Linked DNA regions of Homo sapiens: regions 1, 2, 4 and 5 are each linked to region 3. Evidence: fine-mapped expression QTL. A gene starts in region 3. Each other region holds a variant in brackets. All regions are shown on one strand. Distances are between the middles of the regions.

Region 1 (6,414 bases), 21 kb after region 3:
GAATACACATGCATAAAATGACACAAACCATGGTTGCTGTAAAGTGGGGGTGACTCAGAAAAAAATTGGGAGGCAGGGAAGGAGAGGAAACTAACATTTAGTAGCTGTCCAGTAAATACAAGTTCCTCTGCCTGACCCTCCAATGTACATGATTTTACTTAATCTTCTTAGCATCTCTGAGAAGGGTTTTCACAGGTTTTGTTGAGTTTAAGTACTTGGGAGTGGGTGACTGTTGGTACTGGAGTCCCCTGAGCTCAGCTTCAGATCTGCTAGTGCTATGTAGAGAAGAGATTCTGAGTGTTAACTCCATCTCTCCTTCCATTTGTAAATTATCATAAAGGCATGTGTCTGTAAAAAGATGCTACCATTTTCTTACCTAGAAGAGAGCTGCCAGTTTCCTAGATTTAATCATCTGTCTCATTAAGGATTTCTCTGTCTCAGTGTCTGCTCTCAGGCTAATGTTTGTAAAAGCTGGCCCGTGTATGTGTGTGTGTGTCTGTGTGTGTGTGCGCGCGCGCGTGCGCGTGCATGCATGCAGAGGCATCCCTTTCATAGACACTGTCTTGGCCAAAGTGGATATAGATATGCTGGACAGCCTTCTTCATTTCCCCCAGAAGGTGGGGGGGGGTCCTTTATATCTTGTCAGTCAACTACATATTTTTAAAAAACGATTTGCCATGTCTATAGAGTACCAGAAAGAAGGACAAGGACTTAAGTGAACAGTTCTCATTTATGAGCAGCCCTTCCTTGCTTTTCTGCCCTCTCTCTGATCCATAACCATGCTGATGTCTTCAGACCCCTCTGTCAACCCAAGAATGGCTCCTGAGCTGTGAGAGTTCAGTTTTATGGGGTTCCAATCCTCGCCAAGTAAAGTTTTTCTCTCTCCCTTCCTGAATGGAGACATGCGGTAATTGCTCAGAAATGTTCTCCCTGGTGTGTCTTTACAGCTGACTCTGGTGTCTTATTGCTCACTGATGTTTCTGATTGCTTATTGTTGTGTCTTATTGCTTGCTAATATATCTTCTGGTTGGCTATAAACTGTCTCTAAATTGGGTACCATAGCAATTGAAGAAGGATTCCCTAAATTTATTTTCTTTAGGGGGATAGCTCTGTGTGTGTGTGTGTGTGTGTGTCTGTGTGTCTCCTTATTTTTTCTCTCTAGCTGTGTTCTGTGTAGCTTTTATCCAGTATGGCTTATCTTCACAAATTTATCACCGAGGGTTTTTTAATGTGAAAGTAAATTTGCCCCTAGGGAAATTTAGGTGGAAATGAGCTTTATTAAAATCAAGAAATCAGATTGAACTGGATTTTTGAGCTCTGTTTGTCTTGTTGAAGAGAAAGGGGACTCAAAGGAATGAAAAAGCAGATTTTTAAAATCCCCACCCTTCCACCAATCACACAGTAAATTAATTTCTCCATATTCACTTTCTGAAAGGGCTTGAAGGGCCTTCGTCAAAATTCTCTCCTTTTAGAATGATGCTTTGAATTTTAGAAAGACCCATTCTGTCTTTCTCTAGTTTTGTGATCTTAAGTGAGGAAGTGGAGCGAATAGGATTGGATCTGTGGTTCTTTGTCATGTACCTGAAATGGGGAAAAGGTAAAAAGTATACATATCTGATCATGAAAATGCTTGCCTTCTAAGGACTGAATGTCTGATATATCTTTGTTCTGCCCATAGTGTCTTGATTGTAGCCTTACCTGTTGAAGATAATTCAGTAAATATTGCTCACATGGATTGGTTTCTATTGGAGGGAACAGCATTTGGTTTCACCACCTGGAAGAGTTTCTTCTTATAGTTCTTCTTCTCAATTTACATTTGTGGTGATTTGCCTAGAAGTCGGACTTGGTATTTCGTTTCCCTAGTTCTCAGACCTTAGCAGACACCGCCTAAGAAGTGGGACTGCCTTTTTTGTTGGTCAGGACTGAACTTCCCATCAATGGTTATGGGATGTGGAGGCTTCATAGGATGTGATAGTTACAATCCTAGATGTGATAGTTACAATCCTAGATTGTGATACTTTAGAGGACAAGAACATTGTGTAGCTCTCTACGGGGTAGTGTATGTATGTGCATGTGTACACATTTATTTATACTCTCAATAAAGAGTTGTCATTCAAGGTCAGCTGAATAACTGGCCAGTGCTGACTGTTCCTTAAAAGCCAAAACCATAATGATAGCATCCAAGTGGTGTTGTGATGACTTAATAATTGCAAGGTCACTTGGGAAGCAGAACCACAAAATCAAAGGTACAGGTATAACTCAAGCGACAGTTTCCTGGTATTTAATCCAAGTTGAACTTACAGCAACCCTGCATTTTTTCCAAAGTGGGGAGCGATATGCAACACTTTCTAGTATTTGGGGTTGAAGTGCAATGTATTTGAATTTGGAAGCTGTTCTTAAAAACAGCAACCATTATTATTATTCTTACCATTTGAAAGTTGAAAATGAAAAATGTCCCTGCTGAGTTCCAGGGCTTGCATTTGGAAGTGCAATTTCCCCCTCTTTGTGCTGCTAATGGACCTTGAAATTTAGTTGTACCTGTGCTCTTTCCTTGTATGTGTACCCATGTCATCAGTTTGTGTTGAAGTAGCACCTGAAGTGTCCCAGCTCCACCCCTGGGCAGTGGCTCAGCAGATGACTTTCCCAGGGTCAGATACTGGTATGTCAGTGAGATCCCAGATGCTACTGAGAGACGGGAGAGAGATGAGATTGCAGGTGGCTTCCTATTAAGTTGAGCAAGAAGCAAATATGTTCTGTCTATCTACCTGTCACTTTCTGTTTTGTTATTTGCAATGGTAACAATAAATATGTGGACCCTTGTCAGAAGCTATTCTTTTGGTATCTTTACAGAAAAATGCTTGTCTTTGTTGGTATGGTTTTCACTTTGTGTGGTCAAGGATATTTTGTTTTTATTTAGAAGAAGAAAGACAGTTCAGAAGTGATGGTGATCTTTGAGGAAGTGAATTTATAGCAGTGATTAACAGCTGTGGGCGATTTTGCCCCCAGGGGACACATGTCAATGTCAGGACACATTTTGGTTTTCACAAATGAAGAGGTGCTATTTC[CT/C]TTTTTTTTTTTTTTTTTTTTTTTTGAGACAGTCTCGCTCTGTTGCTCAGGCCAGAATGCAGTGGCACTATCACAGCTCTTTGCAGCCTCGACCTTCCATGTCCCCACCCCCTGCCGCCTCAGCCTTCTGAGTAGCTGGGACTACAGGCAATGTGCCATCATGCCCGGCAAATTCTTTTTTCTTATTTTTTGTAGAGAATGGGGTCTTGCTATGTTGCCCAGGCTGGTTGGGCTCCTAGGCTCAAACGATCCTCCCACCTCAGCCTCCCAAAGTGCTGGGATTACAAGCATGAGCCACTGTGACTGGCCTATTTATTTCTAATAGATGAGGACAAGAGATGCTGCAAAAAGCATCCTACAATATATAAGACACTGCCCATAATAGAAGTATCCAGCCCCAAATGTCAATTGTGGCAGGTTTGTGAAATTCCGATCTATGAGATACTGTTAGAATCTGGTGCCAGCAGATATTTTCACCTATGGTTAGTGCAGAAAGACGCCTGAGACGCTGAAGTTTCCTGATTGCCAGCTGAGACCTAAAGTTCCTTTCCCTTTTCCTAGCAAGGCTGTTCACAAGCCCCCCCACCCCCGCCGCCCGCCAATCTCCACCTCATTTAGCTTTGCCACTGGTCTTGGAGGCCTCCAAGGAAAGAGATTTTAGAAACTCCCAGAAGACTATTTTAGGATCCTGCCCTTAAGGAACTCCTTTCCTGGCCCACAGTGTGCTTTTGGCAATGTACATTTTACTTCTGCTTCTATAGAAGGTAATTATTTCTTCTCGTGAAAGGACCACTAATTCCGGATAACAATGGTACAAAGTAGTCTTAGAGAATGGGTTTAAATTGCAGAATGTTTTAGAAGAAATTCTTTGTTATTTTAAGCAAAGTATATAATTATCAAGATATGAGAGAGTAAATTAAATAAGTTAAAGAAAACAAGACAGGTCCCCAAAGATCTACTTTACATCAGAAAATACCCTTGACAGCATACTTGGAGCAATATTGAAGAAAATGAGACTAGAGAGTTAATTGGGATTTGTGATGCATTTTCAATGTTAAATGAAGGAGTTTCTATTTTGTTCCCTGGGCCGTGGCAGTTGATGAGAGGTTTAAAGTAGGAGGATGAATAGGTGTGAGGTCTGTATTTCCAGAGAATAATTATGGGCCATGTGGAGTGAAATGCATATGAATGGGTGAGAGAGACTGCATTTAATCTTCAGTTAGGAGGAGAATGCCCTGGGTTAGAGATGTTCCTATGGCCCAGGGAGAAAGAATTTGAGACCCACGTTAGGGTGAAGCTGGTGTTATGGGGACACGGACAGACCGTGGGACAGGGCAAGGGAGAATTTGTCATAATTATTTCCAAGGGTGTAGCTTGAAGGATAGCTGGGTGACTCATTATTGAGGAAACAACCCAGCAGAGAGACAAGGTTCCATGAGGACTGTAGCCACAAGCCATTTGTTTCAGAATATCGGTTTAAAGGCAGTTGAAACTTTGATGCTAGTGTTGAGGGGATGAGGGACAATGAAAGGCAGCATCTGTGGAACCAGACTGGCTCGGTTCAAATACTGGCTCCACCACTTCATAGCAGTGTGACTTTGGGTAAGTTTCTTAGCCTTCCTCTGGCTGAGTTTCCCCATTTGTAAAATGGGGGAAATAATAGTAGTGTCCATTTCACAGTATTGTTAGGAGGTATATTAGTCCATTTTTACAGTGCTATAAAGATACTACCTGAGACTGGGTAATTTATAAAGAAAGGAGGTTTAACTGACTCAGAGTTCCACATGGCTGGGGAGGCATCAGGAAACTTGAATCATAGTGGAAGGGGAAGGAAGGCACGTCTTACATGGCGACAGGAGAGAGCGAGCGAGAGAGCAAGGAAGTGCCACACTTTAAAATCATCTGCTCTCCTGAGAACTCACTACCATGAGAACAGCATGAGGGAAACTGCCCCCATAATCCATTCACCTCCCACCAGCTCCCTCCCCTGACATGGGATTAAAATTTGAGATGAGATTTGGGTAGGGACACAGAGCCAAACCATGTCAGGAGGATTAGGTGAGACCAATAACGTTCTTAGAAACATGCTTGGCATAAAGTCAGTACTGTATGAGCATTTGTTAATTACAGTTTAAAAGTTACATATTTGGAATATTGACATAAAAATGGAACACTGTAGTGACTTCTTATTTGGATATCACCACTAATAGTGAAATTAATATGTGTATAGTGCTTTATAGATTAGAAAATAATTTTGTATATAGTGTTTCACTGGAACACTTTAAATTTGAAGTTCCCAAATTGATCTTTTTGTGCCTCTGTTATCAATATTTAGCTCATCACGAAATTCATGTTTTGTCAATAATCTCTTGGTTGCAAGAGGCCAACCACTTAGCTTATATTAACTTAAACTAAAAGGGAACTTGGGGCTCATGTCATTTGAAAGTTTGTGGGATGCTGTTGAGAGGTTCAGACATGGGAGCCATCTTTAAGAACCTCAGCTGTGTCCTCTCAGGTATTGGATACTGTCAGAAGCCATTTCTTTTGGTATGTTTACCGAAAATTCTTCTCATTGTTGGTATAGTTTTCACTTTGTGTTGTCAAGAGGGTTTTGCTTTTTATCATTAAGAAGAAAATACAGTTCAGAAGTGATGCTGTCCTTCAAGGCTATGTTAATATGTTCTGTCTTTTATTTTGCCTTCATTCTTAGGCCATCTTTGCATGGTGAGGGCAGAGATGGATGGTCCCAAGGAGGCTCTAGGTTTTAGTTTTCAGTCCCAGACGGCTGTGCTGCTTTCCAGGAAGTTTTGGCAACTCTCTAGAGCAGGGTCATGATTGGCTTGGCTTGGCCTCTATGCCTATTCATGATCCAGTCAGAGTGACCAGTATCATGTTCCATCCTGATTGGCTAGGCCTGGGTCACATGGGTCACCCCTGGGAATTCATGGTATAGGAGAGGGTCCCTGAAGAGATTTCAGATGAGCAGATAAAATGCATATGGCTACTAGAGACCCTGGTCATGTCATGGTTTGGCTTTCTGGAGCTATCCTAAACCTGACTCAAGCTTTTCTCTCCCTGAGTGTTTGGAGGGCAAAGCCTCAGGACTGCTAAATTTCTGCCTCCATTTTAAGCACTACTGTGGCCAAATGTGCCTCAGCCCCACTTGGAACGAGCCCAAACCCCTGCCTGCAGTTTATTCATGCTCTTACACACTTAACATGTTTTTGTCCACAGCCTGGCATGCTTCTGTTGTTCTGGCTGACTCTTCTTTACCACTTTTTTCAAGTCTCATTTGAAGCTCTGTCTCCCTAAGACTTGCTTGATGCCCCTCACATCCCAGAGGTTTGT
Region 2 (6,414 bases), 71 kb after region 3:
TAGAAATTCAGCTGTTTCCCTTAATGCCTATTTTTAAATTGACAACGTTTGTATGTATTCATGGTATACAACTTGGTGTTTTGATATGGGTCTGCATTGTGGAATGGCTAAATCAAGCTAATTAACATGTGCATTACTTCACATACATATTTATTTGTGGTGAGAGTATTTTCCCTTGATTGGTCATTTCTGGACATGATACTTGGGTTTGCACTGGAATTAGCTGCACGTATGGACCCAGTGCACCCTACCATTGTTAATGTGAGATTAGTAGAGATGTTTTGTAAAACCGATTAATTCCTTTTTAGTATTTTTAAAATCCTGGACAATATCTGTGGCTTTGTAGGAGCTGTTGGTTCACTTGTGTGGTTTTATTCTTTCCTGCTGTCTTGAAACTTTCCTTATTCTGTTATTTAAGTTAACTCTGAAACCTGCGTTTTTATTTCCTGTATCATCTAGGTTTCTCTTGCAACTGGGGAGATGATTGAGAGAGACATCTTCATTTGAGTTGTTAATGTGATCAACACATGCACCAGTGACTTTTATTCTATTCCTAATCCTTATTGAAAGAGCCAGTTCTTGTTTTGATCTATGTTTAACATCAGAGCTTTAACAGATGCCAAAAGGACATGAAGTAAAATGTCTCTTGTATAGTCAGTCACTAGTGGAATTGGAGCATTTAGATTCAGACCTGTCTTAAGAGATGGTACTCTTCCTTCATTTTTCTTTCTTAGGGTTGTCTCAGTTCACCAGCTTCCGCTGAGTTATGGGATTAGAAACTTCTGTTAGTACTTTCACCCTCACCAACTTGTAGTCTATGGATCTTTTTTGGTTAAATCCCAGGAAGAAAAGCCATCAATATTTTTCCTTAAAATACCCCCACAGCTGTTTGTTATATGTCTGACGCTGTACTAGAGATGGTAGAGATAAAAGCTGAGTGGTTGCCTTTCTTTAGAGGTGGGACTTTGGGGCAGACAAGAGAAGAATGAAAGACTATTGATGCTCCACTGTACCAGACACCTCAAATACAGAATAACTCCATTTTATTTAAGTGACTTCAGCATCTGAGGATTTTAATATCCACAGGGGTCTTGAAACCAGTCCCCAACAGATACTGTGGGTCAGCTATACACAATCTTATTTAAACCTCTTGCCAACTCTAAAGAGTAATGGAGAGCCAAGTCATAGATAGCTCAGAGAGGTCAAGTCGCTTATCCCCAAAGTCCTGCACTTTTTGTTCCTGCTGTCTCCTTTATGATGAAGGAAAACGGATCTTAGGTAGCTAACTTGCAGCCATTGACTTTGCATTCAGTTGTATGGTTAAATCCACTTGTGATGGGAAAATGGCTCTAATTTAGCTAACTTGAATGAATAGATCTTCATTGCTAGTTGTCTAATACTCCATAATTTCGATACCCTACGCCTCCAAAAAAACACAAACTCTCTTGCTGCCATAACTCATGAAAACCAGGTGTCAGCCATTCCAAGTGGTAGGAATGAGCAAATGATTCATTAGGCAGCCTTGTATTTCCAGAACATCAGGCAGTTCATTTTCTGTATCTGTTTTCGTGAGCCATGTAACTACTCCCATTACAGAGACAGGGCCCTATAAAGTAATTACTCTGAATGTCATTGTTTCAGGTATATTAACTTAACCATCTGCAGAGCCTTTTACTGCTATCAGCTTTTACAAAATTTAGAATGAATTTCTTCATCTCTGTTGATATTATGTTGATAGATGATACTGATGTATTTGACACTGGCACTTTTTTTTCTTTTTAAACAGTTGTTACAGAACCTAGGAAGCATCATACCTTTCCAGAGTTCCTAATTTGTTTATGCTTTTCTTGTATGCACTTCTGTTGCCATTGCAAGTAGAGTTGCTCTGAAATAATCAAATTGCCCAGTGATTGATTGCTAGATCTTAGGATGTGTGCAAGCTATTGCTTCAAATGCCAATTTGGACTAGATGCATGAGAGTGTGTCTATGACTCTTTCACAAAGGAGCAAAAGAAGCAGTTTCATGCCTTACTTGTCAATCTAGTTCTTATATTTCATAAACAACAGACGTAAAGGTCTTTGCTTCTTTCTGTTCTCCCTTGGCAGTATGTAAAACTAATATTGGCTGAGCATGTAATTAACCTTGAGTTTAAATTCAGCATACTTAATCCCTTGATTAATGCTAAGATTAATGCCCAACAGGAAAGGTTGAAAGCTTAAATGTTTGTGAATGCGAGCATGAAATGAAATCCTAATAACCAGTACAATGATTTGGATTTATGAGCTGTGTTGGCTGCTAAAGATAACTTGGAAATGGTGTTGCACAGACTAATTTGTCAAAGTGGGCAGTGATAAAGAATAGACTGCTTAGGTTACAGGACAAAACCTGAATGTAAAAACAACTAACGTTTTGGGGTGGGTCAGGGAGTACTTTAAAAATATCACCGGATTGTTGCCCGAGAATACCAACACACACCCTTCAAATGTTCAGCCATTTGAAATGGGAAATTCCTTTTCCTCAAGATAATATTTCTGGGCAGTAAAGGAGGTGGCAGAGATTTATGATCATGTTCTTTTCACCTTCTCTGTTCAGCCTTTATTGGTATCTTTTTCATCTGTATATATTTGTTGCTCTTACTACCTGAGTTCTAAGACATCCTTAGTAAAAGAATTTAAAAAAAAAAAAATCCTGAGTTTACAGAACAGTATTTGTTAGTCAGCCTAACTGATCTGTTAGTTTCTCCCTTTAGCCCCTCACCCACTAAAGTTCTTAGCAACACTTCCTGTTTATGAATGTTATATACCACAACATTTATATTTAGACTTCTTGTTCTGGCCTCCACTCTACAAAA[A/C]TCAGAAGGGCAAAGGACAAGACTTGCCAAAACCCAAATCAACACTTCTTTGACTGCTTCTTGGAACACATGTGGCAGGATGGGGCTTCAATGCTGTCATCTCCAATTTGTTTTTTATACACATTTAAATATCGTCTCATGTAATTTCTATTGTATGACCCTAAAAATACTTTTAAAATTATGTTTTAAACTTTTTAATATGCAAAATTTCCAGCATGTACTACAAAAGAGTTTAACAAACTCCTGTGTGCCCGTGATCCATATTCAACAATTGTCAATCCATAGCCGGTCTCATTTCATTTATAACCTCCTCTGCTTCATTATTTTAGGACAAATCTCAAGCATCATATCATCTGTTTCAATGTGTATCTCTAAAAGAGACTTTTAAAACATACTGTACAACTATTCTCATTATAACTGCTAATACTATTTCACACCTGAAAATTAACATAATTCCTTCACATCAGATTAGTATTCACATTTTCAGGCCATTGTATAAATTAAAGTTTATTTATTTGAACTGGGTTTCCAGTAAGGACCCTAAATTGCAATTGTTGATGTCTCCTAAATCTCTCTTCATTTTAGGTTCTCTTCCGTCTCTTACTTTTCCTCCTTCTAATTTTTTGTTAGAGAAACTGCTTCATTGCCTTAGAGTTTGTCTTACTCTGAATTTTGGTTACAGCCCATGTTGTTGCATAACCTGGCTCTTTGCCCCCTTGTATTTCCAGTAAAGTGATAGCTAGCTCTGAGGTTTGATCAGAATAGTGCCTAATATTGTTTGTGCAAGTTATTTCATGGATAATGGTATTATATACTTGAGTTGGGAGGCACATAATGCCTGATTTCTCTTTCTCTCTCTCTCTCTTTTTTTTTTTTTTTTGATGTTAGCAATCATTGATCAGTGCCCAGGTTCATTAATTCATTAAAGGTACCTTCTTAATATATCAGGAATACTTCTGTGCAGAGATGTGACTCTTCATCAGGTATGTGATCACCCTAAGAGGAAATTCATAGAAGAAACCATTTATTTCCCAGTTCATTTCCTAGAATTTCCAGCTTTTCTTCTTTTTGCTTGCTTGCTTTTTGTTTTTTATTATCGTTATGTAGTAATGGATTAAAACATTTGAACAATCCATTGCAGTTATTTTCTTACTGATTGTCAAGTTGCCCCGCTTTGGCCAGTGAGGACCTATTCATACTGCTTTCTCAGACCTTTTGACATGACCATGGTAGTTTGTAATAGTTTTCTTGTTCTGTGGTATGCCAAGATCTTCCAGATTCATCTCATACAGTTCCTGCCCTAGGCCTGGAACCAGCATCTCTAAGAACCATCTTGCTCCCCCGGCCTGCATACCACCCCAGTTTCCTTAGAAATAATGCTTAGGGGCCACAACCTGAGTGCCAAGAGCATTAATTGCTATTGATTTTTTTCTGGCTGCTGGAGATGTAACAATGAATAAACACTCCTCATTATGGTTGTGTTATGTAAGGAGAGATAGCTAGCAACATCAAAAAAGTAAGATGTATCATCTAGATTGTAGTGCATGCCTGGGGAGAAATACTAAAGAGAGGGCAAGAAGTACTTATGAGAAGTGATGGTGTCAGTTTTGGATAGAGTGGTCAGGATAGGCCCTACTGAGAAGGTGAGAAAATGATGTTGGACCATATTTGAAGAAAGTGAGGGAGTAAGAAGTGCAGATATCTGACAGGTGTTTAGCAGGCAGTGGGAAGAGAAGTGCAGTCGCCCTGGAGTGACCATTAACACCTAATGTTAACAACAAGTACAAGCAAAGTCATCTCCACAGAGAGTTTTGTCTGTTTTGTTCTCACGTACAATGATGTCTGGCACATGGGTTTATTGAATGAATGGTTCTATCTGAAGCATTTTTTAAAATTGGCTATAGTTTTTTGTTTTGAGTGGGTAACTTCTAGCTCTAACCCTTCCGATCTTAAAAAAAATGTTGTAAACTTTGTAACATTAAAATCCGCTAAGACATTTGAGTTGAGACATGAAGCAGGGGCGTTTTGAGCACTGATTAACACATTTAATATACAGTAGTCCTCTCTTATCCATGAGGGATATATTTTAAGACCCAGTGGTACCTGAAACTGAGGGTGGTACCGAACCCTCCATATACTATACTTTTTTCTTCTTCACAATGTTATGGCTTCTCTTTGGCATATCTGAATTGCCAGCATCATTACTCTTGAGCTTTGGGGCTGCTATTAAGCAAAATGAGGGTTTATTGAACACAGGCACTGAGATACTGAGACAGTTGATCTGGTAACATAAAGGCTACTAAGTGACTAATGTGAGTGGGTTGTGTCTATATCATGGATCCCCTGGACAAAGGAGCTGTTCCAGCCCTGGGCATGATGGAGCAGGAATCACAAGGTTTCATCAGCTACTAAGAGCATTGCGCAATTTAAAACTTTTGAATTGTTTATTTCTGGAATTTTTTATTTAATATTTTCAGACTGCAGTTGACTGTGGGTAGCTGAAATATTAGAAAGTGAAGCCGTGGATAAGAGAGGACTACTGTAATGCTCTGTAATATTATGAGAACATACAAGGGCTCAGATAGACTGTTAGAATGGAATGAGCCAATTGTATTAGAAGGCACAGCTTTCTTGCCCATTTTTTATTTTCATTGTCACTTAGCATAATTGCACATTAAACACAAAAAAAGAGCTATATCATTGTTGCCTAAAATATGACTACCTCTTAAAATTGAGTGACTTTAGTTGTCAAAATGTCCTTATGTGGATACAGACCAGTTGGGACCAGTTTTGCCAGCATCCAGTGGGAGCTGTGCCTAGTGAGAGTTGCTATAGAAAGTATCTCTATGCATTATCTGTTTGGTTGGCTACAGAGGAATTTATTTGCTGCTTCTCATGTATAAGGGAAAATTGGCCTTTCTCCTCTTAGAGCAATTTGGGATGGATTATTGAAAGTGTCTTATCCTCTTGTTAGAACCCCACTGGTTTTGTGGCACACTGAACACTTACTACAACATCCCTTTAAATTCTGCACCCCCCCTCACCCCTGATATGCTGAGCAGAACTCTCATGGATCCCTCTGGCCCTGTACTCTGTCTCTTGCAGGTAGCCAGTTCTGTACTTTGTGTTAATAATATTCCTCCCTGTCTTGTCAGGGGGCAGCAGTACAGTGTTAGAGGAAACACACAAGACCTGATTTGCTGTCTGGATCCCACCACTTCCCTATGTGGCTTTGAGCTTTCCCTTGAGTTTTCAGTCTGGTTTCTCCTCATTGAGGTCAAGATAAAGTCTGCTTTGCCTCCCTCAGTGTATTATTGAACGGTTCCAATAAAATGAGAACAGTAAAGCGCCGCGTAAGTGGAAAAGAGTATCATTATCATGAGTCTCTTTAGTGCCCAAGTCATGCTTTTTGATTTATTCATTCACTACTTAACAAATACTAATTGGACATTACCTGTGTGCCAGGTACTGCTTTCAGGACTGGAGATAGAGTGAGAACCAGACAGATGAGGTTTCTGTCCTCAAGGAGCTTGCATGCAGATGGGGCAGCAAACAATAAAAT
Region 3 (5,000 bases):
CTCCTAAATGTAACTTTTTACCCATTGACCACTCCCTCCTCATCCCCCTCTCTCCTCCCCACCCCTGGTAACCACTGTTCTGTTATCTCCTATGATAGCAACTTTTTAGCTTCTGCATGTGAGATTGTACGGTAGTTGCCTTTCTGTGCCTGGATTATTTCATTTAGCATAATGTCCTTCGGGTATATCCCTGTTGCTGCAAAAGACAGGATTTCTCTCTCTTTTTCTGGTTGAATAGTATTCCATTGTCAGAGAAGTGTTGTAAGACTAGGAAAGGAACACTGCAGGCTGGAGCCCTGGGGAAAGTGGTCTGAGGCAGGTGGTGGGACTAGAGCTGGGGTCTGGCAAACAGGCTGGGTTTGATTGTCAGCATAATAGAGAGCACTCATGTGCCAGCTGGGTGGGAGGAGCAGCCGAGTGAAGAAGGGGAAGCCTCTCAGGAAGCATGTGCAGGGTTTATGGTAATGAGCAGACCAGCAGGTACGTAGTGGGAGAGGGGTGTGATGGGGCAGAGGAACTTACGTTATGATAGTACAAGACAGAGGTTGAGCCTCATTTTAATAGGCATTGTGGTGGGTGTTGAATAGTGATGGAATGTATGGGTCTGGAATCAGGCTGCCTGGTCAAGGGCTCTGAAACATGAGTGTGCATCAGAATCACCTCGAGGCTTGTTAAAGGATAGGCTGTGGACCACATCTCCTCAGTTGCTGATTCAGTGGGTGTGGGTGGGGCCTGAGAATTCACATTTCTCACTGGTGATGCTGCTGTTACTGAGTTTGGGACCACATTTGGAGAACCACTGGTCTAGAATTGAGAGGTTGGCAAACCTTCTCTGTTAAGAGGTAGATAGTAAATATTTTAGGCCTTCTGGGCTACAAAGAGTATCTGTTACATATTTTTTATTGCTTTTCATGACCCATTAAGCATATATATATCATTCTCTGCCATATACAAACAGGCTGTTGGGGGAGTGAGGATGATGTAGGGAAGGTGGGGCATGGTTTAATAACCCCTGGGCCATGCCTAGATGATCAGTCCTCTGCCACATAGCTGGCTGACCTTTGCCAAGTTAATCACCTTTTACCTTTATTTTCTCATGTTTCTAATAAAACAGAGACGATAATATTCATACTTCTTACCATATAGAACTTCTGAGGATTCAGTGAGCAAAGCCACAAAAGATGGTATGTCACAATATCTGGGATATAGCTAGAATTTATAATTTATTTTTACTCTGTTGATAGGCAATGGGAAAACAGTAAGAGGCAGACCAACAGTGATCCAGGGCTCTGAAAGCTAATTGCTTCAAGATCCTGCTACCATTTTCTTTTGGGCCGCTTGCAAAGAAGAATCCTTTGACTGAAGCATGTATGTACACTCTGAAGTACAGCCTGGGTTAGTCTCTTATAAGGGATCGGATCATTGCTCAGCCTCTCCCTTGAGTGGCACTTAGAAAATGGCGCTATTCGTAAGCTGACTGGTATTGGGCCCAGGACTCTGGCTGAAGGGGTGGGCATGCTGGTAACCATTTGCAACCTATGCTCAGGTCCTACTTGTTGGGAAGCCCTGATTGAGAAGAGTGGCCTGGTCTGTGCTGGCATTAGATAGGATCTGGCTGCATTAATATTGAAACTACTCTGCCTTTTAATGTCTCATTTTGCCTCATGGTGGGAGTGAAAGTGAGAACCACAGAAAATCTGCCTGCCAGGTGTTCCACATTTCTTGTGCTACAGCATGCAAGTGAGCAGTGAGGTGTACCTTTTCCTCATGTAGCTGGGAAAGCAATACCCCTGCTTGTACCTCTGGCATATCTTCTCTGTGCTGGTGCACCTAGAGAGGTTGCCTGGTGGCCCTGAGAGAGCCATCTCATCACTAAACACTGATGGTGAAAGCTGGCCATGCTCAAATAAGATGTAGCAATCTACCTCTTCTTTGTCTAGTTACCCCCAAGGGGGCATCCACTTTCTTGCTCACCTCACCAGTTGCATGTTCTAGTCCTTGCCAGAAGCACATAATAATGACTTTGTAAGCTTAAGTTACAGGCACACAAAAGGGCCTGATGGTGATATGACTCCACCCTCCCCGTTTTTGCTGACATTCCGCCAAATATCCTTCTGTCTCCTCCCCACCTTGCAAAACAAACTTCCTGTTTTGAATTTGGTCCAGGCTGGAACAGCCCCACTACACCTGTTAACACACGCAGACGCACACTTCCCCCTTCATAATTGCTTAGCTTCTTGTTGCCTAGCCAGATTTCCCCTCAGCTTACAGTTCCTGAATCATAAGATATTGAACCAGCAAATTTAAGAGTTGACATTTTACTTAGAGGTATTCAAGTGAAAACATGGCTTCTGGTTTATTTTGCTGTATTGTGCCATGACCACTTGGCTAATTCTTCTCCTCCTTCACAGCAGAATGGAAGTGAGGAAAGGCAACCAGCTGACACAGGAGCCAGAGTGAGACCAGCAGACTCTCACACTCAACCTACACCATGAATTTGTGTCTATCTTCTACGCGTTAAGAGCCAAGGACAGGTGAAGTTGCCAGAGAGCAATGGCTCTCTTCACTCCGTGGAAGTTGTCCTCTCAGAAGCTGGGCTTTTTCCTGGTGACTTTTGGCTTCATTTGGGGTATGATGCTTCTGCACTTTACCATCCAGCAGCGAACTCAGCCTGAAAGCAGCTCCATGCTGCGCGAGCAGATCCTGGACCTCAGCAAAAGGTACATCAAGGCACTGGCAGAAGAAAACAGGAATGTGGTGGATGGGCCATACGCTGGAGTCATGACAGCTTATGGTAAGCACTGTTTCTGGGACCTCTCCATTAAAGTGTGCCTTGGCCTTGAAATGGCCCTAGAAGCTCCCAGATATGGTCTTGTCATGGACTGAATGTCCTTTGCCACTGCCTTCATAAGCAGTGAATTGCACACAGAGAGGCATCTTTAGGAAATTAAAGCAATGCCATTTTGGGGGTTCTGAGCTGGTGTATGCAGACACACTTTCCCCTGGAGTCAGTGGGTTAGTATAGTTAGGGCTCTATTGGTTGTGTTTGCAGCTAGCTCCTTCTCCCTGAACACATTTCAGGAACCATGTGATCTCATGTGGGAGTGAGTTCAGGGAATGCTGAAAAATATTCTCATCTTTCCCTAAACAAAACTTAATTAAGGCTGGTGGGGGTGAGGTGAAGAGGATGGGGAGGAATGTTCTATGGAAGCCAGTAAACTTAGAGCCAATTGTGTTCCTCCCTCCAGCCAATAAATATGACACTGGCACTTGCATGCTGGTGAGTTTTAACCTTTGGCTTCTTGAGGTTATGTTGCTCTTCTTCTTGCCCTTGTCTCTAACTGCCCTCACTTTGAAAGGAATCTTTGTGTACTTGTTGCTTTTTCTTTAAAGAATTTTTTTCAGAATTCTTTTTGAAATCAGAAAGAGTAAAAAAATACACATATGGGATGTAACTTATTTTTCTTTTATGTTTAATATAGAAAAAGTTGGAAGCTGTAGACAAGCAAAAAAAGAAAAAAATTACACATAAGTCTACTACTCCAGGCAATAACCACAATTAACATTTCAGTGTGTATTTTTCTGATACTTTGCATACACACACAAATATATATATACATATATATACATATATACATATATATACACATATATACACATATATATATACACACACATATATATATACATACACATACACACACAAATACTTGGAAAAAAATTGCAAATGGAATTTAGATCATGCTGTGTTTTGCAGAGCAGACTTGGTCTGTAGAAGATGACCTGTTGTTGAGTGACAAGAGTCTGATCATTGAATTGAGGTTTCAGTGGTCTCACTGAAGTGGTCTCCCTGATAGTATAGATGAGATGCAAGAATGGGGTTAGGTGAGGTGGAGAAAGTGGAGTTGTGTTTTGTGACCCACTCAAGGAAGGTGCCCTGAAGTATGCCGATTTCAAATCGTGATTCCCAAAAATGTGCAGCAACAGTTCAGTTCAGTGCAGGTTGAGTTCAGACACAGGAAATCATACTCAGTTATACATGTGCTTCTTTCTTTCCAAAAGGGGAAAAAAACTTGTTTTTAAAAAAGTATGTAAAATTTTATACACACGTATGTGTATGTGTGTGTGTGTATGTGTATATATTAGAAGATGCTTACTTCTGAGGAACATTTTAGAAATTCTTTTCTAGTTCTTACTATGTAAATAATCACACTCTGCATTTAATCTGTTAAAAGTGTCTGTAGGCATTGGCTTTTAATATATCTAAAAAAATGGTACCTTTTTTGAACTGATGGATTTAAAAAATGAGATTCCACTGTGGGAGCTTACACTGAAAAGTAACTAGGTAGTTTTTCCTAGAGTTGCATTTTAAAATTGCTCATTGACTCACATTTGTGTAACATTTCCAGAGTAGTTTAGATAAACCAACAGAAAATAAAGCTGATTGTCACCATTAGTGTTACCAATGTATATGACACAGCAGGTAACACAGGTGCAGTTTTAAAGTTTCTGGTTGTATGCATTTCATGTTACAGCTTTGAAGGGAAAGAGTTACAGCTCAGTGGTAATTTTCTCTTGTTTCTCTCAGTCTGTCAAACCTTTTCCATGGGCAAGAAGAAGCCCCACAAATAGCAAATTTATAGGCTTTAAATTTCTGCAGTTGTTTTGGCTGTTTGTATTTCTTGTGTATTGATGAAAATCTCATAGGGAAGGCTTCCCCACATTTTAAAGGACAATAATTTGGTCTTAGCTTTTCAGCCTCACAGAAATATTATTTTTTAAGTTACAAAAAAATCCCAGAATAGGCTGTTAGAATTTCAGCCACCTTATATGCCTGTAATCATAAGACTTTGCATCTCAAAGAAACTATAGAAATTATTTATTCCAACTTACTTTCGTAGATGAACCTTAGCAAAATAATTTGTCTTTTTCTCAAAAACAACAAAGAAACAATCAAACAGGTCACATCAGCAACTCTAACTGACACTGCTAGTTTTCTC
Region 4 (6,409 bases), 44 kb before region 3:
AGAAGAGTTTTCTGTTGTTTTAAGCCACTAAGTATAGGTAATTATTAATGACAATTTGTTATAGCAGCAATAGGGAACCAATACAGAGTCTCACTGGGCTAATCCAGTGTCAGCAGGACTGTGTTCCTTTCAGGAGGCTCTTAGAATCTGTTTTCTTGACTCTTCCAGCTTCTAGAGTCTGTCCACATTCCTTCACTCATGGCTTCTTATGTCTTCAAGCCAGTCTTTGACACTTTTTAGATAGTGATTCTTCTGCTTCCCTCTTCCGCATTTAAGGACGCTGTGATTGCATTAGACCCACCTTGATAATTATCTTAAGGTCAGCTGATTAGCTACCTTAACTCCATCTGCATCCTTAATTGCCCTTTGCCATGTAAGGTGTAACATACTCAGATTCTGGGGCTATGACAGAGACATCTTTAGGAGCTGTTATTTTGCCTTAAAAAGGAGGCAATTATTTAAGTATATAAGGTGAATAGTTAGGTCTTTCTCTCCAGGAAACCTAACTTGTCATTCAGCGGTTACCATGCATGGGTATCTTCTTCCAATTGCCTGAGCCAGCCAGACTTTCATGTTTGAGCATTCAGATTGGGCTTTATTTCTCAAGGCATGTGGCAAACCTCACAATGACACTGAAAGGTTAAAAAAAAAAAAAAGAAAAATACAGTTGCTTACCAGAGATACTGATCGTTTACTTCTGCTAGGATCAGAAGAGATTTTAAGAGCTTAGTGGCAAATCCTGACCTTGGAAAGCCCTGCCTTACCAGGGGTCTTGTGCAGAGGTGTTATTGAGATCAGACACCAGGTTGCAGTGATATGTATCATTTGTGCTCTTGCCATCTACCGCCCCCTGCCTGCCACCAAGCCAACCTCAGGAGGTCTTTGCCCAGAGGCTTGGCAAGATGACTTTCCACAACTCAGGGAGGTTTTAAGGAGAGGGATTAGCATTGACTCTGATACCTTGTTGGTTTGTGTGTCATAACTTAAAGGTCCATGCTTCTCAGCTGGCCAGTGGTCACACCTGATTGGAAGGTGAAAAGACTTTGCGTTCTACTTCCAAAAGTTTTCACATTTGTCACACTGTCCTAACCCTATCAGCTTTGTTGCTATCATTGTAGTGAGGCCTGCCTAGGGATGATAAGTGAAGGATCCCCAAGGACACATTAAGACAGCACATAGAATCAGAGTTTTCAGACTCTTGGCCGAACTTTTTTTTTTTTTAAGCAGACCAGTATTTTCCAAACTTTGGACTTAGTTTCCACCATATTCACGTTACCACCTATACTTGTTACTTAACATATTTTCTTCAGTTTATCCTGCATCAACTCATTTATTTTAATTTGGTCTCATTCTAATTGACAGCATATAGCAGCTTATGAATTTGATGTGCGTATGCATGTTGCAACAAATACTTAACTATTAGTATGTATGCTACGGTGTAAATGTACCACACTCAGAAAAAACCTTATTAGACCATCCTGACTGTTTAGGAAGCTTGGTGCCCAAGGGAAATAGTCTTTGACCATCAGCCAGAATTTGGTTAGTTTCAGCAGATAAGAGAGTAGCTGGTAAGCTACTTAGGAACATTTTAAGTAGAATATGTGAGAAATGAGGATAGGATATGCCTTTATTCCCAGCAGGCAAAAACATGCATTTATTTACTATAGTTGTTATAATATAAATAACATAGATGCATATGTATACCAGAAACATGGTCTTTATCCCATTTGTGGATAAAAGCTAAGGAAGAACTTGTATTACTTATGTATGAAATGCCCAAGGGAACAGAGCCTAGACAAGTTCTGAAACTTAATATCTAGGGAATGTAAACATTTAATAAAACATTACCTTACCCACCTATGTGGCCTTTCTTGGCTGGACTTCTAAAAAATTTTGTTTTTATACCATATTCTTTGTTTTAGGAAAGCATTATCTTACTCCCAGCCTCTGGGGAAAATAAATAACCGAGAGAATCAATAAGGAGATGCCCCAGTGTTGTGGTCAGTGTCTGTTTTTCCCCAGTGTTCTGGGAGCAGGGTTTCCTGGTGTTCTGTTA[C/A]ATCAGCATGAAGGAGGCCTTGTGCATGGGAAGACCCAGACCTCACTTCCCCTGTGTCACTTGCAGTCACTTGTCTTCCTCTTTTGTTTTTGTGTATTTACCGGGGATGAGGAGGTGGATGGGCAGAGGGATTGTATATAGAACTGGCTTATTTTTTTTTTATTTTTTTTTTTTTTTTTATTTTTTTTTTTATTTTTTAATTATTATTATTATTATACTCTAAGTTTTAGGGTACATGTGCACATTGTGCAGGTTAGTTACATATGTATACATGTGCCATGCTGGTGCGCTGCACCCACTAACGTGTCATCTAGCATTAGGTATATCTCCCAATGCTATCCCTCCCCACTCCCCCGACCCCACCACAGTCCCCAGAGTGTGATATTCCCCTTCCTGTGTCCATGTGATCTCATTGTTCAATTCCCACCTATGAGTGAGAATATGTGGTGTTTGGTTTTTTGTTCTTGCGATAGTTTACTGAGAATGATGGTTTCCAATTTCATCCATGTCCCTACAAAGGACATGAACTCATCATTTTTTATGGCTGCATAGTATTCCATGGTGTATATGTGCCACATTTTCTTAATCCAGTCTATCATTGTTGGACATTTGGGTTGGTTCCAAGTCTTTGCTATTGTGAATAATGCCGCAATAAACATACGTGTGCATGTGTCTTTATAGCAGCATGATTTATAGTCATTTGGGTATATACCCAGTAATGGGATGGCTGGGTCAAATGGTATTTCTAGTTCTAGATCCCTGAGGAATCGCCACACTGACTTCCACAATGGTTGAACTAGTTTACAGTCCCACCAACAGTGTAAAAGTGTTCCTATTTCTCCACATCCTCTCCAGCACCTGTTGTTTCCTGACTTTTTAATGATTGCCATTCTAACTGGTGTGAGATGATATCTCATAGTGGTTTTGATTTGCATTTCTCTGATGGCCAGTGATGATGAGCATTTTTTCATGTGTTTTTTGGCTGCATAAATGTCTTCTTTTGAGAAGTGTCTGTTCATGTCCTTCGCCCACTTTTTGATGGGGTTGTTTGTTTTTTTCTTGTAAATTTGTTTGAGTTCATTGTAGATTCTGGATATTAGCCCTTTGTCAGATGAGTAGGTTGCGAAAATTTTCTCCCATGTTGTAGGTTGCCTGTTCACTCTGATGGTAGTTTCTTTTGCGGTGCAGAAGCTCTTTAGTTTAATTAGATCCCATTTGTCAATTTTGGCTTTTGTTGCCATTGCTTTTGGTGTTTTGGACATGAAGTCCTTGCCCACGCCTATGTCCTGAATGGTAATGCCTAGGTTTTCTTCTAGGGTTTTTATGGTTTTAGGTCTAACGTTTAAATCTTTAATCCATCTTGAATTGATTTTTGTATAAGGTGTAAGGAAGGGATCCAGTTTCAGCTTTCTACATATGGCTAGCCAGTTTTCCCAGCACCATTTATTAAATAGGGAATCCTTTCCCCATTGCTTGTTTTTCTCAGGTTTGTCAAAGATCAGATAGTTGTGGATATGCGGCATTATTTCTGAGGGCTCTGTTCTGTTCCATTGATCTATATCTCTGTTTTGGTACCAGTACCATGCTGTTTTGGTTACTGTAGCCTTGTAGTATAGTTTGAAGTCAGGTAGTGTGATGCCTCCAGCTTTGTTCTTTTGGCTTAGGATTGACTTGGCGATGCGGGCTCTTTTTTGGTTCCATATGAACTTTAAAGTAGTTTTTTCCAATTCTGTGAAGAAAGTCATTGGTAGCTTGATGGGGATGGCATTGAATCTGTAAATTACCTTGGGCAGTATGGCCATTTTCACGATATTGATTCTTCCTACCCATGAGCATGGAATGTTCTTCCATTTGTTTGTGTCCTCTTTTATTTCCTTGAGCAGTGGTTTGTAGTTCTCCTTGAAGAGGTCCTTCACATCCCTTGTAAGTTGGATTCCTAGGTATTTTATTCTCTTTGAAGCAATTGTGAATGGGAGTTCACTCATGATTTGGCTCTCTGTTTGTCTGTTGTTGGTGTATAAGAATGCTTGTGATTTTTGTACATTGATTTTGTATCCTGAGACTTTGCTGAAGTTGCTTATCAGCTTAAGGAGATTTTGGGCTGAGACGATGGGGTTTTCTAGATAAACAATCATGTCGTCTGCAAACAGGGACAATTTGACTTCCTCTTTTCCTAATTGAATACCCTTTATTTCCTTCTCCTGCCTGATTGCCCTGGCCAGAACTTCCAACACTATGTTGAATAGGAGCGGTGAGAGAGGGCATCCCTGTCTTGTACCAGTTTTCAAAGGGAATGCTTCCAGTTTTTGCCCATTCAGTATGATATTGGCTGTGGGTTTGTCATAGATAGCTCTTATTATTTTGAAATACGTCCCATCAATACCTAATTTAATGAGAGTTTTTAGCATGAAGGGTTGTTGAATTTTGTCAAAGGCTTTTTCTGCATCTATTGAGATAATCATGTGGTTTTTGTCTTTGGCTCTGTTTATATGCTGGATTACATTTATTGATTTGCGTATATTGAACCAGCCTTGCATCCCAGGGATGAAGCCCACTTGATCATGGTGGATAAGCTTTTTGATGTGCTGCTGGATTCGGTTTGCCAGTATTTTATTGAGGATTTTTGCATCAATGTTCATCAAGGATATTGGTCTAAAATTCTCTTTTTTGGTTGTGTCTCTGCCCGGCTTTGGTATCAGAATGATGCTGGCCTCATAAAATGAGTTAGGGAGGATTCCCTCTTTTTCTATTGATTGGAATAGTTTCAGAAGGAATGGTACCAGTTCCTCCTTGTACCTCTGGTAGAATTCGGCTGTGAATCCATCTGGTCCTGGACTCTTTTTGGTTGGTAAACTATTGATTATTGCCACAATTTCAGAGCCTGTTATTGGTCTATTCAGAGATTCAACTTCTTCCTGGTTTAGTCTTGGGAGAGTGTATGTGTCGAGGAATGTATCCATTTCTTCTAGATTTTCTAGTTTATTTGCGTAGAGGTGTTTGTAGTATTCTCTGATGGTAGTTTGTATTTCTGTGGGATCGGTGGTGATATCCCCTTTATCATTTTTTATTGTGTCTATTTGATTCTTCTCTCTTTTTTTCTTTATTAGTCTTGCTAGCGGTCTATCAATTTTGTTGATCCTTTCAAAAAACCAGCTCCTGGATTCATTGATTTTTTGAAGGGTTTTTTGTGTCTCTATTTCCTTCAGTTCTGCTCTGATTTTAGTTATTTCTTGCCTTCTGCTAGCTTTTGAATGTGTTTGCTCTTGCTTTTCTAGTTCTTTTAATTGTGATGTTAGGGTGTCAATTTTGGATCTTTCCTGCTTTCTCTTGTAGGCATTTAGTGCTATAAATTTCCCTCTACACACTGCTTTGAATGCGTCCCAGAGATTCTGGTATGTGGTGTCTTTGTTCTCGTTGGTTTCAAAGAACATCTTTATTTCTGCCTTCATTTCGTTATGTACCCAGTAGTCATTCAGGAGCAGGTTGTTCAGTTTCCATGTAGTTGAGCGGCTTTGAGTGAGATTCTTAATCCTGAGTTCTAGTTTGATTGCACTGTGGTCTGAGAGATAAGAACTGGCTTATTTTTAACATAACAACATAAAACCCCGTAAAATGATCAACTTGATCTTTGGGTTGCCTCTTGCCCAGCCTTGGGAAAATGTTAAATCAGAGCTCTCTGGAAATTTGGGACAGCTCCAACTTCCTGAAAAATCAAGAATCGAGTTTTCCATGGAAAATGGTGGGAAGAGGTTGGATTTCCCCATACTTTCAGTCTGTTTCCCTCTTCTTCATTGTATTCTTGCACTTCTCCAGAGATAATCCTCTATTATTCAGTTCCAGTGTATCCAACTATTATCTTCCAGAGAGAGGGAAGATATCAGTAAGACCTTGAGACTTGCTTGTCTCCTGAGTGATGGCGTAAGTGAGCCAGCTTGAATGCCGAGCTTCACTGGGCATAGAATGCTGATTTGCTGAAGTTGATGCGTGTGGGAAAATGTTTGTCTCATCTTCTCCTTGACATTGAAATACTGTTTTGCTGTTTGGAAGAGTCAGGTCTGCATAGGCCTTTTGGATATTTGCATTTTATTTTCAGGAAGTCTTTGCTGCTGACTTGGGTAAAAGCATCACTTTGCATGCCCCTCACTTCATTTTCTTAGAGGAAAGAAAGGCAGCCAGATGACAGGCTGGTAACAAATTGGACTATTGGGCTGAATTTGCAGGTTGATAAATAGGTGGCCCAGGTGGTGAAATGAAGTGAAGTTGTGTTCAATCAGATACTGGACTGGCTTTGCAAACGTATTAAACACAGCCAGGTGAGGGAGACTTGGGAGCCCCCCCGCCCCCCACTGCTGC
Region 5 (6,414 bases), 120 kb before region 3:
CGCCCCCTTTTGGCTATGTGACTTGCTTTGGCCAGTGGGATGTTAGCACATGCTGTGTATAAACAGAGTTGTAAAAAGAGGCTGTTTCTGATATCCTTTTACAGGACTGGGCTTGCACCTTCAGACCCCGCCACCTCCATGAGATCGTGCCCAGGCTAGCCCAGTGGAGGGGGCCAGGTTTGTGCTTGCCGATTTCATCATAGACCAGCCAATGCCATCTGACCTGTCAGCTGTGTGCTGTCTCCTGAGCAGGTCTAGGTCGGCCAGGGTTACCTGAATCACCCACTGGCTGACCTGTAGAGATGTGTAAATCATCCATGGTTGTTGTAAGCCACTGAGTTTGGGGTAAGTTTGCTATAGAGCAGTGGTTAACTGATGCACAGCTCGTATCAGATGTTTGAATAGTGTAGAAAGTAATTTTAGTGTCCTTTTAAAAATCTTTTTGTTAGTTACTTGTAACTAATATTCTTTTAAGATTGTACTTAAGTTCAAGAACTTGGCCATTGTATCTGCCCCTTTTTCCCTTTTTAGAAAACCATTAAAATCCTTTATATTTTTACCAATTACACTCAGAAACAGACTAGTTTTCCTTTCTGAAACTGTTTATCTTGTAATATGGTGGCTTTTGACCCCACCCTGGAGTAAGAAATACATGCTGAATCAGAGCTCACATATGGAAGTAGGTAACAGTAAGAAAAGTTTCATAAAAAGTACTTAACCTTTATCGTGGCCTCTGGTGTTTTCTATTTTGTCCTATTTCATTGTCTTAAAAAATTTTGGTCAGAGGTCAGGCGGCACGTGACTGGCTGCCTATTTTGTAAATAAAGTTTTATTGGCACATACCCAATCCCATTTGTTCTTCTGTTGTTTATGGCTACTTTCACACTACAATGGCAGAGGCCAGTGGTTGTGACTGATAAGAGATGACCTGGCCTACAAAGTCTCAAGTATTTACTCTCTGGCCCGAGAAGAAAAAGTTTTCTGACCTTTGCACTGAATGGATTTCATAACCCATCAGTTAGTTGTGACCTTCTGTTTGGAAGACCCTGTTCAAGTGACCCTTTGGTCTCCTCATACCCTTGTAGAAATGACAGTGAACACATGTGGCAGATGTGAAAACTCACCCTTCTCTGTTTACTTGGAATCAACAATTAGGTCCTTGCCATCTAACATTACACCCGATTGGCTTATATAGGAAACTTTTCAAGCATTTCTAAATTGTTTCATTATAAGTAGTGTTATGCCCCCCCTTCTTAATTTATTTTTAAATAAGGCTTTCTAGTGGAAACTAACTGGAATTAAAATGGGCACAAATTCCATTCAAGTGCTAGTTATTTATTCATTAGATCCCGGCAGTGCCTTTTTTGGTGATATAATGGAGTCCATTAGTGGGAAAGGCAAAGAAACAGTGATCCTAGCTTCTCTTACACCACCTTTCTGGCAGCTGGGCCTTATTGCCACATTTCTGAATTAGGGTGGTATTATATCTGAGCAGAATAAAATTTAGAGACATTAAATCATGGACTTCTGTGGTTGAAAAGACTTTGGAATTTTTTTAAAACTCAGATTTAATTGGCTCCTTAAAGGCCAAATTTCTCCAATACCTTCATTTTTCCAAGCCTGTCAAGAAAGGACAACATTGTTATTTATGTTGCATGGCTCATGGGATTGATGAGAAAGAGCTGAGGCAGAAAAACTTCAGAGGGATCTGGATATGTCTTTGTAGAATCTGAAATGCCAGGTGAAGGATGGTCCCTGGCCCATTTATTTATTGTCAGTGAGAATGGAATCAAAATAAATGAGCTTAAACTACAGCATGAAGAGCTTAGGTAAAATCTGAGAAAAATCCCCCAAATAGGGTCCTTTTATTGACATTAGAATAGGTTATCCTGTAATCTTAATAGATTCATTGCACACATCAAGTCAATATGTAGAGAAACTGGGTTGCAGCAGAGAAAGGTTTAATCAAAGGGCCACCGAATGAGAGGGGAGGAAACCTCAAATCCATCTCTCTGAGGAGTTTGGGTTAGAGTTTTTAAGGGTTTTGGAAAGGGGCAGGCTTGGCGGTTGTTGATTGGTCGAAAAATGCAGGGTGAACATGGGACAGGGAGGTGAACCACCTGCATTCTCATGCTGATCCGTTCCTCTGTGGGGGTCTTCAAACTGGTTGTTGGCATTCAGGGTCTGAAAACATTTTAAGCCATCCTTTAAAAAAAAGACCTTATGATACTACTGTCAGAGATCCTGTCTATAGGAACAATGGGGATGCAAATCAATTCCTAAACTGTCTTAGGACCCCAATATCAGAAATCCTACTCATAGGAACAATGGGGATGCAAATGGCCACTATCTAGTGCTATGTGACTTTTAGCAACAGGGAAGCGGGCCAAGGTGCAGCCTGACTAGTGCTTCATTGTAACCATATTTCAGTCCAGAACCTGGCATGCAATTCTTATCAACCCTGTGGGGATGGTTTCACTCCTAAGCGTTTTTGATGTTAGCTGCTGCCCTTTGTTCAGATGGATGGCTGTCCTTCTAGGTGGTTGGATGCCTTTAATTAATAAAGATTCTTCTGGGTGCTAGCAACAGAAACCTGCCAGACCTTGCTTCAGTGGAAGGAGAGAACTCACATTAGGAACACAGGAATAGGGTCCAGGAGCCCCCTGCAGCCTGGGATCGAGGCTCTAGGAACCCCACAAATCCTTGTTGCTCTCCTTTCTGCTTCCATGTGTCTGGCTGCTTAATTCTCCTCCCTGCCTATTCTGCTTTTCCTGTCCCAAGGGCAGAACTCTGAGTAAGGGGATTTGTTACAGGGTGTAAGCCACACAATAAGGCTGATCTTTCTTTTGTAATGCCAGTTCTGGTTTTCCCTCAGTGCCCAGCTTGAGATCACCCAGGGGTGGGCAGGGCGTGGTACCTGGAGAGAGGACTCTGGTCTAGTCCCAGGCCCTACAATGTTATTGGGGGCATATCAGCAATTTGGGGGGGCAATTTTGATTGTCAGTGATTGAGGAGAGCTACTAGCATTTATTGGTTGGGGACCAGGGATGCTAAACATCTGTAATGGGTAGCACAGTTGTGTATCACAAAATGTTTCCTGTTACCCACTAGACAATCATGGACAAGCAAAATCTGAACCTAGACCTAACTTAGGTATAAGCAAATAATCGTTGCACATTTTAAGTAAACATCGACGTTTCCAGTTAATGAAGAAAGGTTGTGCTTTCTTTTGTTAGGAAATTTACCATTTTGGAAACTCATGTTACCTGTAGAATTAGCACATCACCTGTATCAGTCCATCTTTGTAGCTGACATGACACATTTTAAAAATTTCACATTAAAATGAAGGCATCTAATGGCTCCATTATGTCTTTTAGAGTGGTCTGGCCCAGCTAATTGCATATTGAAATACATTAGATTTGTCATAAATTACTTTCCTTTATTGTCTTTTCTGTCAATCTTAGGACATTAAATGTATATGTTTGAAATTGTGTTTAGGTAGGTTATCTGAGCATTTGGTTCAGATAGTAAAGAGAGTGTTATAAGTTCACTGTAAGCCCCAGGGGCTTTGGGACTGATAGGGTTTAGAACATTGCACTAGGGGAAATGAATTGTAAAGTAATGTTTTTTCTCTAGACTAATGATTCAGCTGAATTAATACTTTTAATGTGAAGCATTTTTAAA[G/A]AAAGCAAACCAGCCTGGTGCGGTGGCTCACACCTGTAATCCCAGCACTTTGGGAGGCAGAGGCGGGCGGATCACGAGGTCAAGAGATTGAGACCATCCTGGCCAACATGGTGAAACCCTGTCTCTACTAAAAATACAAAAATTAGCTGGGCATAGTGGTACGTGCCTGTAGTCCCAGCTACTTGGGAGGCAGAGGCAGGAGAATTGCTTGAACCCGGGAGATGGAGGTTGCAGTGAGCCGAGATCGCGCCACTGCACTCTAGCCTGGCAACAGAGTGAGACTCCATCTCAAAAAAAAAAAAAAAAAAAAAAAAGAAACCTTGGCCCACATGTGGGGTATAGCAGAAATAGAGATATTGGTCCCATAGTGCTCCTCCCCGAGCCACAGCCATGGGTGGTGGACTGTCCTTGTTGTACAACCTCCACCCTCCCATGCATACAGGTAGTTTTTGGCTCTTGCTGGGCCATGGCTCCCGTGTAGGTCTCTGCATTATTCTGGAAAAACTGCAGGAATGGAAGGTAAAATTAGGTTGTCACATGAGTTTCATAACTGCACAAGGTTTCAGGGAAACCTGTGAACTTGCATGGGAAAATATTACACTTTCATTTTCCCTAACTTCTAGCCAAAATTTGGCAATTCTTTCACTTTGGAAGGTTGGACATAAGTCACAGTAGTATTAGTGCTGTTTGTGACTTTGTCACCAATAGAAATCTAATATTTTCATGTCACATTAGAGATGATTAACAGGTGTGTTGAAATACCAGTATTCATCACCACTTTGAAATTACGGTGGTTGTTGCACCTGTTGCTAGATAGTATTATTTAATGTGTTAAGATACAAGCTGCAGGTATTGCCATTTACCAATTAAAAAAAAAATTGGGGGGCCAGACGCGGTGGCTCATGCCTGTAATACCAGCACTTTGGGAGGCCGAGGTGGGCGGACCACTTGAGGCCAGGAGTTTGAGACCAGCATGGCCAACATGGCAAAATCCTGTCTCTTACCAAAAATAAAAAATTAGCTGAGCGTGGTGGCGGGTGCCTGTAATCCCAGCTACTAGGGTGGCTGAGGCAGGAGAATCACTTGAATCCCAGAGGCAAAGGTTGCAGTGAGCTGAGATTGCACCACTGCACTCCAGCCTGGGCAACAGGGTGAGACTCTGTCTCAAAATACATGAATAAATAAAATAAATAAATAAATATAAAAAATATTTTGGTAACAGTATTTCAATATCATTGATTTCCTCTGCAGTCCTGTGTATTTTATTTTATGCATTAAAAAAGTCTTTCTGAGAAGGAGTCCATAGGCTGCCCCTAGTTTGCCAAGGGGTACAGTAGAATTGTGGTGTGTTCTAGACCCTGCACACCCACTGCTCCCCTTTCCCTCCTCTTCATCAAGAGTTGACCTCCTCCTGACTTGGGCTTTCTCCAAGGCTGTCAGGTGCGTTTGTAGAGTGGGTGTGGGCTTATCTCCAACTTTTTATCTTAGACCTGGTCAAAGAATTGAGCTCTATTCTTGGCTCACTGGTTTATCATATCCAGGGAGGCAAGTTTGTCAGAACGTTCCTCTAGCAAGGCCATATCTGTCACTACAAGGTATGTGATTCATTTAAAGCCAAATGTCCTAATTATCTGAATCCTAAACAGAAGTCTGATTTCAGCTTCAGTTTCAGTTTTTCAAGTGGAGAAAACCCACAGACATTCTGCAGGAAAATGCCCTAAATACACATTAACCCCCTGTTTTCCTCTTGGTATGCTTTAAGGTTATATCATCGACAACAGCACTCTAAGAAATAGGTCTCTGCCCAAGAAATATGTTGTGCACATGGTTGCCAGGGGTGTTTTCCTGTTGGCGTATGGCTTTGGACAGAGGGGCATCCCCTAGGAATTGGGGCTTGGCTTGGAGGTAGTCAGCGCCATAGGAATGCACTTCCTCTTGGCTTCCCGCTTGCCACTCAGTGAGTCCAGCCCAGAGGGTGCTCTGCCGCTGCTGTACCTGGATTTCTGAGAGTGGAGTCAGCCCTTTTCTGTTTCTGGAAACTTCTCTTGATAGGAAATGACTCTGTCCACAGAAGAGCTTATTGTACTGCACCTCGTCAGGCTGCAGACTTGAAGTCATTGCTGTGCTGCCATGGGCATCTCTTTCCACTTGTAGCTATATTTAGAGCATGAAAATGCTGAACATTTCCTTCCTGTTTCTTTAGAAGTCAGAGCGGGGAGGGATTTCTTGTATTCAACACAAATCCCTCGGATAACCATATGAAAAGATAATGGGAATAATAATTTTTCGTTCTTTGTTTAAAAAAATATTAACGCTGAAGCTTGGACTAGAATAGTCTCTATTTTTTTTTTCTGCTTCATTTTTCTATGTTATTGGTCAGTTTTATTATTGAGGCAGTTACATTACATTATATTCTTACTGTTTAAAGATAATGTATTTGTATTTAACAAGTTTATCAATGAAGGGATAGCATCTCGCCTTTCTTTTCTTTTTTTTTTTTGCAAATGGAAATAGCAAAGTTATGTTGCTTTCTGAGTCACTGATTGATATTACAGATTTGTGTTCAAGATTGTTGGCACAATTAGGCCTGTTTTTTTTTTTTTTGTTTTGAGACAGAGTCTTGCTCTCTTGCCCAGGCTAGAGGGCAGTGGCGCTGGTCACTGGTCACTGGTCTCAAACTCGTGGGATCAAGTGATCTTCCCACCTCAGCCTCCCAAAGTCCTGGGATTA

Direction of the effects. Positions count from the first base shown, and alleles are read on the strand shown. Sizes are in standard deviations (SD) of each study's normalised expression. Not every link is listed here.
For the expression in Th17 cells of the gene that starts at base 2,222 in region 3, CT is the high allele of the variant in region 1 and C is the other (large effect, 1.1 SD a copy in Schmiedel 2018).

Evidence for each region.
Region 1: its variant is fine-mapped to the expression of MGAT5 in Th17 cells (Schmiedel 2018, PIP 0.95).
Region 2: its variant is fine-mapped to the expression of MGAT5 in whole blood (TOPMed, PIP above 0.99).
Region 4: its variant is fine-mapped to the expression of MGAT5 in whole blood (TOPMed, PIP above 0.99).
Region 5: its variant is fine-mapped to the expression of MGAT5 in whole blood (INTERVAL, PIP 0.92).

What each region holds. Positions count from the first base shown.
Region 1 is chr2:134,272,513-134,278,926 of GRCh38, forward strand. All of the region lies in intron 2 of MGAT5 (alpha-1,6-mannosylglycoprotein 6-beta-N-acetylglucosaminyltransferase), which reads left to right. Among named protein-coding and RNA genes, the nearest start is that of MGAT5, 22 kb to the left of the region's middle. The variant CT/C (reference allele first, on the strand shown) is at 3,066.
Region 2 is chr2:134,322,337-134,328,750 of GRCh38, forward strand. All of the region lies in intron 4 of MGAT5 (alpha-1,6-mannosylglycoprotein 6-beta-N-acetylglucosaminyltransferase), which reads left to right. Among named protein-coding and RNA genes, the nearest start is that of MGAT5, 71 kb to the left of the region's middle. The variant A/C (reference allele first, on the strand shown) is at 2,853.
Region 3 is chr2:134,251,851-134,256,850 of GRCh38, forward strand. MGAT5 (alpha-1,6-mannosylglycoprotein 6-beta-N-acetylglucosaminyltransferase) reads left to right here and starts at 2,222. Exons shown (of 16, transcript NM_002410.5): 1 at 2,222-2,794. The coding sequence starts at 2,554.
Region 4 is chr2:134,206,935-134,213,343 of GRCh38, forward strand. It overlaps a transcript of MGAT5 not described here. Among named protein-coding and RNA genes, the nearest start is that of MGAT5, 44 kb to the right of the region's middle. The variant C/A (reference allele first, on the strand shown) is at 2,057.
Region 5 is chr2:134,131,717-134,138,130 of GRCh38, forward strand. It overlaps a transcript of MGAT5 not described here. Among named protein-coding and RNA genes, the nearest start is that of MIR3679, 7.8 kb to the left of the region's middle. RefSeq lists enhancers at 1,876-2,498, 2,499-3,120, 3,142-3,311. The variant G/A (reference allele first, on the strand shown) is at 3,685.